Linked DNA regions of Homo sapiens: all the other regions are linked to region 1. Evidence: fine-mapped expression QTL. A gene starts in region 1. Each other region holds a variant in brackets. All regions are shown on one strand. Distances are from middle to middle. Region 1 holds the start of TIAM2 (TIAM Rac1 associated GEF 2). Region 2 overlaps TIAM2 (TIAM Rac1 associated GEF 2). Region 3 overlaps TIAM2 (TIAM Rac1 associated GEF 2).

Evidence for each region.
Region 2: its variant is fine-mapped to the expression of TIAM2 in whole blood (TOPMed, PIP above 0.99).
Region 3: its variant is fine-mapped to the expression of TIAM2 in neutrophils (BLUEPRINT, PIP 0.95).

What each region holds. Positions count from the first base shown.
Region 1 is chr6:154,993,269-154,997,428 of GRCh38, reverse strand. TIAM2 (TIAM Rac1 associated GEF 2) reads right to left here and starts at 2,114. Exons shown (of 27, transcript NM_012454.4): 1 at 1,937-2,114. RefSeq lists enhancers at 1,007-1,612, 1,613-2,220 and silencers at 1,857-1,936, 2,027-2,166.
Region 2 is chr6:155,219,947-155,224,106 of GRCh38, reverse strand. All of the region lies in intron 15 of TIAM2 (TIAM Rac1 associated GEF 2), which reads right to left. Among named protein-coding and RNA genes, the nearest start is that of CLDN20, 42 kb to the left of the region's middle. RefSeq lists enhancers at 1-353, 3,163-3,662. The variant A/G (reference allele first, on the strand shown) is at 2,639.
Region 3 is chr6:155,243,660-155,247,819 of GRCh38, reverse strand. TIAM2 (TIAM Rac1 associated GEF 2) reads right to left here. Exons shown (of 27, transcript NM_012454.4): 17 at 3,741-3,809; 18 at 3,037-3,162; 19 at 2,089-2,197. It also overlaps a transcript of TFB1M not described here. Among named protein-coding and RNA genes, the nearest start is that of CLDN20, 18 kb to the left of the region's middle. RefSeq lists an enhancer at 1-485. The variant AC/C (reference allele first, on the strand shown) is at 1,750.

The DNA.
Region 1 (4,160 bases):
AATCGGATTTCAGCCTCCAATTGCCTGTTGGACAAGATGACCTTGTGTAGTGAACAGCCTGAACAACTGTGCAAGGTGGCAGTGCCAGAGGTATATACAAAAATGTGTTCTAGTAGAAGCACTGACTACTGGAGGAGGAGGAGCTTAACTTCGCCTACGGATAAGGAAGAAAAGCTTCCTAGAGAAGGTATTTGACTGACACATTAAGAATGCGTGGGTAATTGACAGATGGGCAAGAGGAGTAAGAACAGTGTAAGCAGAATTTCATTCATTCCAAACAATGGTCTGGAAATAACAACTTCTGAGTAGCTTGGTGTGTCTAGAGCAGGCAGTGTGCAAGCGGGGGAGAGCCAGGAGGCCTGGGGAAAGTCAGTAGATGGAACTGGAAAGGCAGGCAGGTGCCACATTATGAAGCATCTTAGTATGGTATGTGAAGGTGTTGAAAGCTGATTCTGAGGTCATTAGGGGCGTGTTTTGCCACAGTAAATAATAAACTCTTCTTCAGTTATACCTTGCCATGTTCTTTTACATTTACCCAACACAAAAACCTCTGACACCCTAAAGCAACAAGTTTTATTTTCCTATAAAGTGAGCAGGTAAAATCCGGTGGAACAAAAGTTTGCTTACAAAACTGCACCAATCATGATACTATATTTTTAAAACATAACAATCTTAAGCACATCAGGAAATACTTCTAAGAGTGTATACACACAAGTTCTACTGGTTAAGCCCAAATTATAAAACCATGGACACTTTTTTATCCAGAGCCTAGGACTGAAACATTTATAGCATATGATCCGCACCTGTACGAAACTTGGTAAGATTTTAGAGACACTCTGGCTTAAATCTATTGGAAAGAGAACTGGAGATAGCCGGTGTTGTCTGTTAAAATAAGGTGGTCAGCATCATTTGGGGAGCAAAAGGTAGAATGTGTGAATAACCATGAGAAGAGAATCCCAGGCCCTTCATCGCATAGTAAATAAAGGTCTCACCATTACCCAAGGAGGCTGAGGAGTGTCACCAAGTGGCCTCTTGCCTGAATTCTGCAGAGAAAAGCAGGAAAACCTCCCCCTGAATGAAATTATCTTTGGAATCAAGCAGCCTTCTCCCTCTTTAAATAAAGTTAACCTATTTGTCTATTTTAAAAAAACGGCATGCAAGCTCATCAATATTAAATTTCGCCGCTCCTTAAAGATAGAAATACCTCGTGCAATGTTACTCCCAGACCTTTCCAGCGGCTGTCAGCAACGAATGGCTGGAAGAATGGACTCTTTTCTTTCTGAACTGTTTTTGGTAAATAGGATCCATTAGGGGCACAACGTGTCGGCTTTCACAGAAACTTGGCACCTCAGCCCCCCCAGGAGCCGCGCCCGTCCGGGATGGCTCCCGCGCTCGGAAAGGCCGGAGGGGCTGAGCAGGGACCGCACGGTCTACACTCGCTGAGCCGACCGCCTGGGATCCTGCTTCGCCGCAGCGCCTTTCTGAGGCTCCGAGGTCGCCGGGCGGGCGTGGGCGCAGCGGGCGCTCCCCTCCGGGCACCCACGGCTCGGCTTTGGGCGAGAACCTCGGTATCAGGAGGCCGGGGCGCCGCCTCCTCCCATCCGGGATGGGACCGGGGCTGAAAGTGGGTCCTGGCGTGTCGCGCAGCGCGAGGGGACCAGGGGACCTAGTTTCAGAGCCTTCTGGAAAGTGCTTCGTCCCCCGTGCCAGGCTGTGCCCGGACGCTGCCGCCCTCCGGGGAGAGGGTGCCAGGCCGCGCCCCGCAGCCGCGACCTTCCGCGGGACTCCCAGGAAAGCGGGGGCAGAGAGGGGCGGCCAACAAAGGGGAAGGGAGGGGACCGCCGGCCGCGCGCCGCCCCGCCCGCAGGGGACCTGGAGCCGCCGCCAACCAGCGCGGGTCGTCGCCCTCCTGCGCCCTCACCCGGGCGCCCCTTACCTCGGGTCGCGCGCCGGGCTCGGTGGGGCCGGTCGCGCGCCGCCCTCCGCTACCCTCGGCGCGTGGCCCTCGCGGGAACGCCGGGAGGAGTTGGAGAAGTTCTGGGGGTCACTTTGTTCTCCACTTGGACGCGCGCTGTGCGCCTGCGGCGGCCGCGGCCACAGTTACGGTTACCGCTGCCCCAGCCCCGCGCGCAGCGCCTGCCAGGCCCGAGCCGCGACCGCACCTCCCGCCCCGCCCCGCCCCGGACACGCCCCAGCCCCGCCCAGCGTCAGGCCCAGGACCCCCGCGCCAGCTCCCGGCTGGTCCCGGACCATGTCCCTCGCGCTTTCTTTGGAACAACACAAATAAAACAATTCAAGAAACATCGAGCACGCGCTCACTGTGAGCTGGGGGCTCTGCCCGCTACCGGGGATGCGATGCGCCAGTGCGACCCCGTCCCTTCCCCAAGGAATTTAAAGACGGCTCTTCCCGGGTCCCACCGAGGAAAGGCACGCAAAACTGAGGTCAGCGGCCGCAGAGACTTTCCATCTCCTTCCCCTTCTGAGAGGAGATGGCTTCGCAGCGGAGATGGCAATCGAGTCGGCACTCCAAGACCCAGTCGAATTGGGACTTTCCAGGTGGAGAAGCTGCGATTTTTATTATTATTTTTTCAGACTGAGTTTCGCTCTTGTTGCCCAGGCTGGAGTGCAATGGCGTGATCTCGGCTCACCGCAACCTCCGCCTCCTGGGTTGAAGCGATTCTCCTGCCTCAGCCTCCCGAGTAGCTGGGACTACAGGCACGCGCCACCACGCCCGGCTAATTTTGTATTTTTAGTAGAGATGGGGGTTTCATCATGTTAGTCAGGCTGGTCTCGAACTCCCGACCTCAGGTGATCCACCCGCCTCGGCCTCCCAAAGTGCTGGGCTTACAGGCGTGAGCCACCGCACTGGGCCAAAGCTGCGATTTTTATTAGAAAAGCCTGAGTGGCCCAGTGGGCCCAGATGCTGGGAAGGGCGAGGGAGCTAAGGAGACCCAGGAATGAAAGCTGCCTGGAATCACTCTCCTCGCCTTGAAAAAGGCTGCACCCTGGAGAGGAGAGGGAAGGGAAGGTAGATGCAGGCCATGTGTTAGGGTGGGTCCTACGAGAAGCAGCGCCCACTCAGGACTAGATGCGGAGGGTTTTCTTGGGGGAAATGGCCGTGGAACTAAATGAGGAGGGAGCCGTGAGAGCTGGAGAGGGCCGGACCTTCTGCAAATCAGAGCCCAAGTGAAGGAGGGAGGGAAGCACCCATCCCGGCCTCCCTGCAGTCTAAGAAAAGCTCAGCAAGATCATCCGTGAGCCCTTCAGCCAAAATTACGCATCATGGGGATCCCGATTCTCCCCGGAACCTGCCTGCCTTCGTGTCCATGCCGCCACCAGTCCTTGGCTGGGAGCGGCCAGGTGGGAAGGGTGGCGTTGGGCACAATCCCAGTGCTGGAGTTCAGAGCACAGCAGCCAGGGCCCTGGTCAGTTAGGTGCAGTGCGTGAATACGACCCAGTCTCCGTAACGGGAGATCCGTGGAGAACTGTGAGTCAAAAAGACAAATGAAATCAGCTTTCCCACAACACACCCAGTATCAAAAGGAAGCCTCCAGGCTTTGCGGGGATCGGACAGACCTGCTCTCCACCCTCAACCACCACAGGCTCTGTACACACCGAACTAGTAGTGACTGGCCCCTCCCACTCTGTAGGCCCTCCCCTGGTCTTGTCTGCATCTTTGCGCACTTGGCTCTGCCTAGGAAAATATCTTCCCACTCCACTCACTCTTCCATGCTCAATTCAAGCATCACCTCCAAAGACCTTTTCTTCCTTGACATTTATTTACTGTTTTGTGGGTGGGGTGGGGGGGGGCGGTGCTTGCTTTGTTTTGAGATGGAGTCTGTCTCTGTCGCCCAGGCTGGAGTGCAGCGGCACGATCTCAGCTCGCTCAACCTCCACCTCCCGGGTTCAAGTGATCCTGCCTCAGCCTCCCAAGTAGCTGGGACTACAGGCATGCACCGCCACACCCAGATAATTTCTGTACTGTTAGTAGACACGGAGTTTCACCATGTTGGCCAGGCTGGTCTCGAACCCCTGACCTCTAGTGATCTGCCCACAGCCTCCCAAAGTGTTGGGATTAGGGTGTGAGCCATGGCGCCCGGCCAACACTTATTTACTTCTTACTTCTGACTCACACCTACCACACTGAGACGGGGGGTGGG
Region 2 (4,160 bases), 230 kb before region 1:
CAGAAGGCAGCCAGGTGACGATTTCAGAACTTTGAACAATGGCAAGCATCTGAGCAGGCCTCGGTGAAGGGGATTTAATGAGTGAATGAATAATGCGACACTACACCCACCCCCCTGGGTAAATATTAAAGATCGGATGAGATTCCAGGCACCCACACAGTGGCAAGCCAAAATTAGATAGTAATTGTGCCTATTACTTCTTTAAAAGAAAAAGGGCGAACGACAACAAGGGCTTAGCTAATTTGCTGACATGGAAAGGGGAAGGGTGAAATTCACTGGCAACGCCCTTGCCGGGGAACACAGGAGCCACAGCCACCTGAGCGTCCCTTACGCTGAGCATAAAAAACACCCCTCCTAGTCCATCAGACAGCTATTTATTTTACTAAAGAGATCCATAAAAGTTTGGTTTGGGATCAAAATGTTAAAATTCTTACTCCAAAAAAAAACCCATTTTGTTCACTAATGATAGAAAATAAAACTTTCAAAATGCCAAAACATCCCAGCACGTAATGCTGCGATTGGTGTTTAACAACCTGGGTTTGCATCCATTGAAGTGCAGAGTAAAAAAAAAAAAAAAAAGAAAAAAAAATCTGGGGATGTCTAACCACCATCATCAATATAATCTATTCTGGTCTCAACCTAATAATTTATTTGCCATCTAGGGGTTGTTATTTATTTAACGTTCCTCAACATCTCTTAGCACATTAAAAAAATAAAGCATTAATAGCTAATCTCACCCAAGCAATTAGACTAAGATAAAAACAAAGTTCAAAATATCACTTGACTATATAAACACAGTGCTGTTCATATTGCAGGTACTTGATAACTGATTCTGCAATATCAATAATATTAAGACACAGGCTAGGCTATTCAGATGTTTACTCAAAGTAAGGATCACAAACTGACGGTTCATAAATTCCTAACAGGGAAAGCTGTGAATAAACATCGTAAGACTGGGGAGCTCCCTGGAATTGTCTGCAATTTCTAACGTATGTGCATAAGCAATCTTCTGGGGACCCATAGCTTTCCTCAGATTCTCAAATGGTCTGCTTGAAATAAGTTCCTAAATAACGTAAGTGCATAAAAGAGCAGAGAGCATCTGGAAATACGGTATCTAACCATCCTGACCTTCGCATACCATTACCTGAGAAGCCTCCAAAAATCTTACAGGTTTTAGCTTCAATGAAATGCATGAAGGACAATAAACGACCGAAGCAAATTCTAATAGGGTTCTGCTAAGATTCTTCTTCTAAGCAGCTCTCCATATTCATGGGGATAAAAAGGGATATCTAGCAGAAAGCTGCTTTGGATCAGGCATTCAGGCAGAAAGACAGACAGGGAGAGACATCAGGGCAGGACAGCTGGTCAGACGGACCCTTGAGTTTCACAGATAGGGAAGTTTGACAACTTACCCAAGGATGAAGAAACGGCTCCTCAGTGTAAGACTTAGGGCAAAAAACCCATGGTTTTTTTTGTGTTTTTTTTTTTTGTTTGTTTTTTGTTTTTGAAACAGAGTCTTGCTCTGTCATCCAGGTTGGAGTACAGTGGTGCAGTCTTGGCTCACTGCAACCTCTGCCTCCTGGGCTTAAGCAGTTCTCATGCCTCAGCCTCCCGAGTAGCTGGGATTACAGGAACGAGCCACAATGCCTATCTAATTTTTGTATTTTTAGTAGAGATAGGGTCACACCATGTTGGCCAGGCTGGTCTTGAGCTCCTGGCCTCAAGTGATCCACCAGCCTCAACCTCCCAAAGTGCTGGGACTACAGGCGTGAGCCACGCCCACCCAACCCATGTGTTCTTACTCCGAGTGTACCCCATGTCGAGGTGGCTTCCCCAAAGAATAGGCAAGAACAGGCCGGGTGTGGTGGCTCACGCCTGTAATCCCAACACTTTGGGAGGCTGAAGAGTGTGGATCACCTGAGGTCAGGAGTTTGAGACCAGCCTGGCTAACATAGTGAAACCCCGTCTCTAGTAAAAATACAAAAATTAGCTGGGCATGGTGGCGTGCACCTGTGGTCCCAGGTACTGAGGAGGCTGAGGCATAAGAATTGCTTGAACCCGGGAGGCAGAGGCTACAGTGAACCAAGATCGCGCCACTGCACTCCAGCCTGGGCAACAAAGTGAGACTCCCTCTCAAAAAAACAAAAATAAATAAATAAATAAGAAGAAGAATAGGCAAGAACCTGCAAATGGTATTTACACTGAGGCTAGTTTGGCCTGAGAAATCAAACTTCCTGCTTTCTTCTCCCACAGAAAGCAAAATTATATCAAGGTCTCCATAGCTCCATCTCTAATTCAGAAGCCCAGAAAGGAAATAAAGATCTGGAAATAGAGGGCTGAGGGGCATGGAGAGGGAAGATGGAAGAAAGAGGACAGACATGGGACACTTGCCGTTCAACCCCATCTTCACTGTCATCCAGGTGGACAAAATTAAAGGGGAGACCTCAAGCAGCTCTGGCAAGAGGTCCCTTACGACCACCTAAGTTGCAGGGAGCTGGCTGATGACTCCTTGAACTTGGCTTTCTGTTTGCCTTGAAAAGGTCAAACATATCCCACTTCAAGTGTCATCTCAGACAGGATGAGAGCAAAACCATGGCACCCGCTGTTTCAATGGAGAGAAAAAGGAGAAGCCTGTATC[A/G]GAAATAAACGTGGCAAATAAAGCATTAGGTGAAGATCAGCATCTCTGCTCAGTCAAATCTTTGTGTGGCCTCAGCTCTGAGTAGTCTCCAAGTCACTTTCCTGTGCATCACTGTCCCAGCAGGATGAGGAACGGGAGTGTCATTATCTCTTCAGCAAGTTAATTTCAGAGCCAGCATTCCACCTGACAGGCCCTGATCCTCCAGCCCACCCCAGCGCAGTGATTCACACTGCAGCTCTCACAGCGCTGCTCTCTAAAACTTCTCTTTTTTACTTCTTTATTTTGTGATTCTGAAGATGACTCTGAATAATAACTTGTGTTTTTTTTTGTTTTTTTTTTTTTCAAAAAAAAAAAAAAACAAGATGAAAGAGAAAAGTCTGGAAAAGAAGAAAGCAGGGACAGAGGAAGGCAGGTAGGAAAGTACTGTGGCACAGAAAACAGCAGGGGAAAGAACCAAACACCACATGTCTCGTAAGTGGAAGCTGAACAATGAGAACCATGGACACAGGGAGGGGAACATCACACACCGGGGCCTGTAGTGGAGGTGGGGAGCTAGGAGACGGATAGCGTCAGGAGAAATACCTAAGGTAGATGATGGGTTGATGGGTGCAGCAAACCAGCGTGGCACATGTATACCTATGTAACAAACCTGCACATTCTGCACATGTATCCCAGAACTTAAAGTATAATAATAATTTTAAAAAGAGGTAAGACACGCTTGATTATTTTCTATAACTTCAAGTTTAAAACGATGTCTTCTTTTTGTCCCTAGTTTGTAATGCAAATCCCTATTTTTTCATTAAACTCTTCTCTGCCAAAAAAAAAGAGGCTGGGAAGCCAGTTGTGCTGACGAAAGTGCCTCAGTGATCCAAAGACAGAAAGGAAAGGGGAAGAAGGGCAATTGGTGACCTCCCTGCATCCTTCCAACCTCACTGTGTGCTAGGTGCCATCATCCTTACTTTCCAGATCAGGATCAGGAGACACAAGCACTGGTGGGGCCAGGCTGGCCCAGGGCTCCTGGGGTTCTTACTGTGCAGCCCGCCAGGCCTCCAGACCAGCCTCGCCAGGCTCAAGTCCCCCTGCCTTGCATGATACTCTGCTCCTAGACATACGTGTATTCCATGTTTAATAGAGAAAACACAGGCCCTCTGCCACAGCTGCAGGCAGACTCTGAGCCCCAGCCAAAGTCTCGTTCAATAACTCAACACCCCATGTCTGAGTTTTAAAAGCCTGCCTGGCAAAGGCACAGCCAGCTGAGGACTCATCAGGCAACTTCCTGTTGCTGGCAATTTCTCTTTGGCCCCAGTTAGCCCACAGCACAGACCATGCCAACAGCCCCACTGCCCACTTTTTAGTTTGCCTCTGTCCAAGGACCCACTTGGCAGGAGGAATCAGCCCAGCTGACGGGAAGGGCCAGTTGCAAGAAATGGCGAGAAAGGTCACCAGCAAGTTTCTTCCCACTGCCTTCCTGCCACGCTCTGTTGTTCATCCCTCTCTACAGGACAAGCTCTCCATTGCCAAA
Region 3 (4,160 bases), 250 kb before region 1:
AGCCCTGACAGAGCCCTGGAGTGCTGGGAGCTTCCGAGGATGGAATGCAGGCTGCGCCCCAAAGACTAACACTGACTCAAAATGCAGGAATGTCTGACTTTAAAGACACATTTCATGCATACCCATGAGAAATATTGTTATAGGTGGCCTAAAAAGTGAGTTTCAAACAATTCATTAAAAGCCATGAAGCGTGGCCAGGTGCGGTGGCTCACGCCCGTAATCCCAGCACTTTGGGAGGCTGAGGCGGGCAGATCACCTGAGGTCACGAGTTCGAGACCAGCCTGGCCAACATGGTGAAACCCGTCTCTACTAAAAATACAAAAATTCGCCGGGCGTGGTGGTGGGCGCCTCTAATCCCAGCTACTCAGGAGGCTGAGGGAGGAGAATCACCTGAACTCCTGAGGTGGAGGGTGCAGTGAGCCAAGATCGCGCCACTGCACTCCAGCCTAGGCAACAAAGTGAGACTCCATCTCAAAAAAAACAACATCAAAAAAGCCATTAAGCAATGTTATCCAGACCCTACACCATACCCACAAAAATTTCATAAAGGAAAATAAACCAGTGTTTTTCCCACTGGCCTCACTCTAGTTGTTGCTTATTTGTATTCTGTACACTTAAGGGTTATCTGGAAAGCAGTGTCTTTTCTCCTGTAAAGTAAGGTGACAGGCACCACAGCCTGCAGCCTACAGCCTTCACTCCACAGCTCCAAGCAGATTCACCTTTCGCATACCTAGAGCCACAGCTCCCTTCCAACAGGCATGGCAGTAGGACCCTCTCTGGCAGTGAAAACTGCCCCTTTGTCTGAGTGCCATGAAGGGTGTGTGTAGGAATCCAGGTGCATTTGGTTTGGGTACCAGCGGATACACCAGTGCTACTTGGATTCCACCAGTTGGCACTGGATGCCCAGTTGCTTGGAATGCAGCTACTCTGAAGGAAGATACACCCTTATTTGGGATTGTGTTGTAAGATCAAAATCTACAACATTCTAGGAGATGCAATACCATTTTGAATGTGATTACCAGGCCAAGTAGGTGGTGACAGGACCCCTCTTCTTTATGACAAAGGAGGAATGGAGCAAGCCATTGGTATGCTTTCACTGTACTGCACTGACTGTCAATATGTATTGACAAGTACATTGGTATGCTTTCACTGTACTACAGACTGTCAATACAAAGGTGCTTGTGGGCCAGGCGTGGTGGCTCATGCCTATAATCCCAGCACTTTGGGAGGCCTAGATAGGAGGATCACTTGAGGCCAGGAGCTTGAGACCAGCCTGGGCAACACAGTGAGACCCATTTCTACGAACATTTTTACATTTTTAAAATTAATTAATTAAATTTAATTAAAAAGAGGGTGTTTGTGGGAGGAAATGGCAACAGAGTTCAGCAACTGTCTAAAGCAACTGGAGAAGATGGATTTGGGCTGGGTCTTGCTCATTTGAAGCACTCTAAGACCCCACTTTTTAAATGTGGGGCTTTTCTTCTGGGATATCATGACGTTCTGGATTAAAATCCAATGGCAGAGCTGCATCCGTGGACATGAATGAGCACTAAGGGCGTCAGGATAAACCTCCAGATGCCCTCCAGGCCCACGCAGAGAGAAACACCGAAGAGCAACCTTTGGGAAATGTGAGCTCTTTCCAGTTGCACCAGAGAGACTTTACTTTCAGCTGACACACTTCTTGTGAGTTTCGTGGTAGGCTGTTGTGGCTCCTCAGGCTTAAGAAGATTAACAAGGAAAAAAAAAAAA[AC/C]ACCATAGCATGCATTTCTTTCTACTCCCATCTAGGGTTTGGGGTTGCAAGTTTTTAGAGAAAGGAATTTGGCAAGAAAAGAATCCAGATGTAACTGACAGCAAAGTGACACATGGCAAAGCAACATCTCTGCTCTTAGGCATACTTGTTCCCAGCTACTAATTAACTGACAGAAACAGAAACCTTTCCCTTTAATATTTGCCACTGTCAAGGTCAAGGATGGACCTTAATACATCAAAATTGTACTTACTCTCTACTTGTTAAATACAGATTTACCCTTTACTAACAGTTAAAAATGCAAAAAAAAAAAAAAACTATAAAAGGCATAAGCAACTTACCTCGCTCCAGAACCTTCTGTACTTTGATATGGTTAGCACAGAATCCACTGTACAGTTTAAAGTGGTCCGCGTAATAAAGGAAAGAGCCTCCAAGGGAAAACAGTAATTTCTAGAAGGGCAGAGGGGAAAGTCAAATCAGACATGGTTTAATCAATGCGTGCTGGCTTATGGCATTTGACGGCCCCATGGCTTCTGTCAGATTCCATAGCACTAATGCCTTGGAGAAGTTCAAACCTGCTCCATCCACACAGGAGGTGGGGAACAGCCCAGGCGCTCCCCTGGCAGGTATCTAGCTTGACTGCAAAGTTTCCAGCGGCAGAGCCTACTGACAGTGTGCAATCCAAGGACAAGAAACAAAGAAAGTTCTACAAAAATACAGCTGACAAGGTGGGATATAAACAATCTGAGAGAGGTTCACTAATAAAGCCGACTCTGCATTGCTTGGGGAGAGTGATGCTGTCTGTATGGTTCCAGGTCCCCTTGGAGGGGCTTCCTGCCACACTGCGGCTTACACGGATGCTATGGAGCACTGGTGCTTCATAGAAGAGAGGGCTTGAGCCCAGCAATTAGAAACCTATTCTCTTAATCCCAGATCCACATGACCACGGGGAAGAAGGATTGGGCACAGGGTAGGAGCTCTGGTTTCAGAAGCAACCACCTTGGATATCCTTCACAGCAGCTGAGAAAAGAGCACGTACGTGGTCAACAACCAGGCGGGAGGTGCTGCTGGACTTCTGACTACCAAAAGCACCTGCGCCAGGAAAAAAAAATATATACAGCCTTCCTTTACCACCTGACAGAGGAAAACGGTGCAAGGAAATAGTCACAGGACAATAAATAGTCAATAGTCACAGGACAAGAAATTCTTTCTCATGAGAGAATTCTCATGAGAGAAATACGTACCATAGCCACGTATTTTTACTTTAAGCCTAAATCTGAGATACTTACTCTAAACTGTGAGGGGGTTTCTAGGGTGTTAAAGTCAGATGATGCTGAAATCCCATCCTCCAGGGTCTCCAGAAACACCTTCTGAAACTCAAGCATCTCTGGCAAACTTCCAAAAAGTGACTCCATCTATGTGAAGATCAGGATTTGAAATGAGGGGATTAGCCATGAAGTTCAGGACACCACGCTAACTCTTAGGCCCACAAATAAATCACAAGGAAATTCTTCACGGAAAAGCAGACAGAAAGTAAATCCTTTAAGAAGACAGCACATTCATTATGGGATATGGCTTATACATAGAAAGTTTCACAGCTCCATCCCCCATAATTCTCTATTACTACAGTAAATTTTTAAGTGGATGTAAAATTCTCAGAATTCAAATTAAGAAAAATGTAAGTCAGTAGAACTAATTATGTGGTTTCACATTACAAAGGTATGTATTGAAAAGGAATTTCTGATCACACTCTCTTCTACCTCAAAAAGACCATAACCGTCCCTCTGCCTTTGTAAACACTCTGCCACTGGGTCATGCAGCCGAGGCCACAGCAGTGGTTTAGGAGGAGGCTATGCCTGGGACTCTCAGAAGACCGTTAAGTCTTGGGATGTTCTTTTGGGATCAACAGAGATACTCTCATAGGAGTTCTGCTAAAAGGCAAACAGAGACTAACCTGTGGATCACTGGACAGAAGGAAGGTGATTTTATTTACCTCATCTTGGGTAAGAAAGGTCTCATTCTGAAGTGGCTCCAAGTATAATTCAAAGAGGCAGCTCAAATCCTGAAAGAAAATAGAAGAAAGTGTCTTCAACGCTTTAGTCTCCAAAATACCCATGAGATTTGGGTAGCAGCAACCTGGCAGCAGCTCCCAAGGCTCCCATCAGGATAATGAAGTTTATGCCTTGTTGAAATTCTTTTTTTTTTTTTTTTTTTTTTTTTTTTTTTGAGACGGAGTCTTGCTCTGTCACCCAGGCTGGAGTGCAGTGGCATGATCTCAGCTCACTGCAACCTCTGCCTCCTGGGTTCAAGAGATTCCCCTGCCTCAGCCTCCCACATAGCTGGGACTACAGGTGTGCTCCACCACACTCAGCTAATTTTTGTATTTTTAGTAGGGGCAGGGTTTCACCATGTT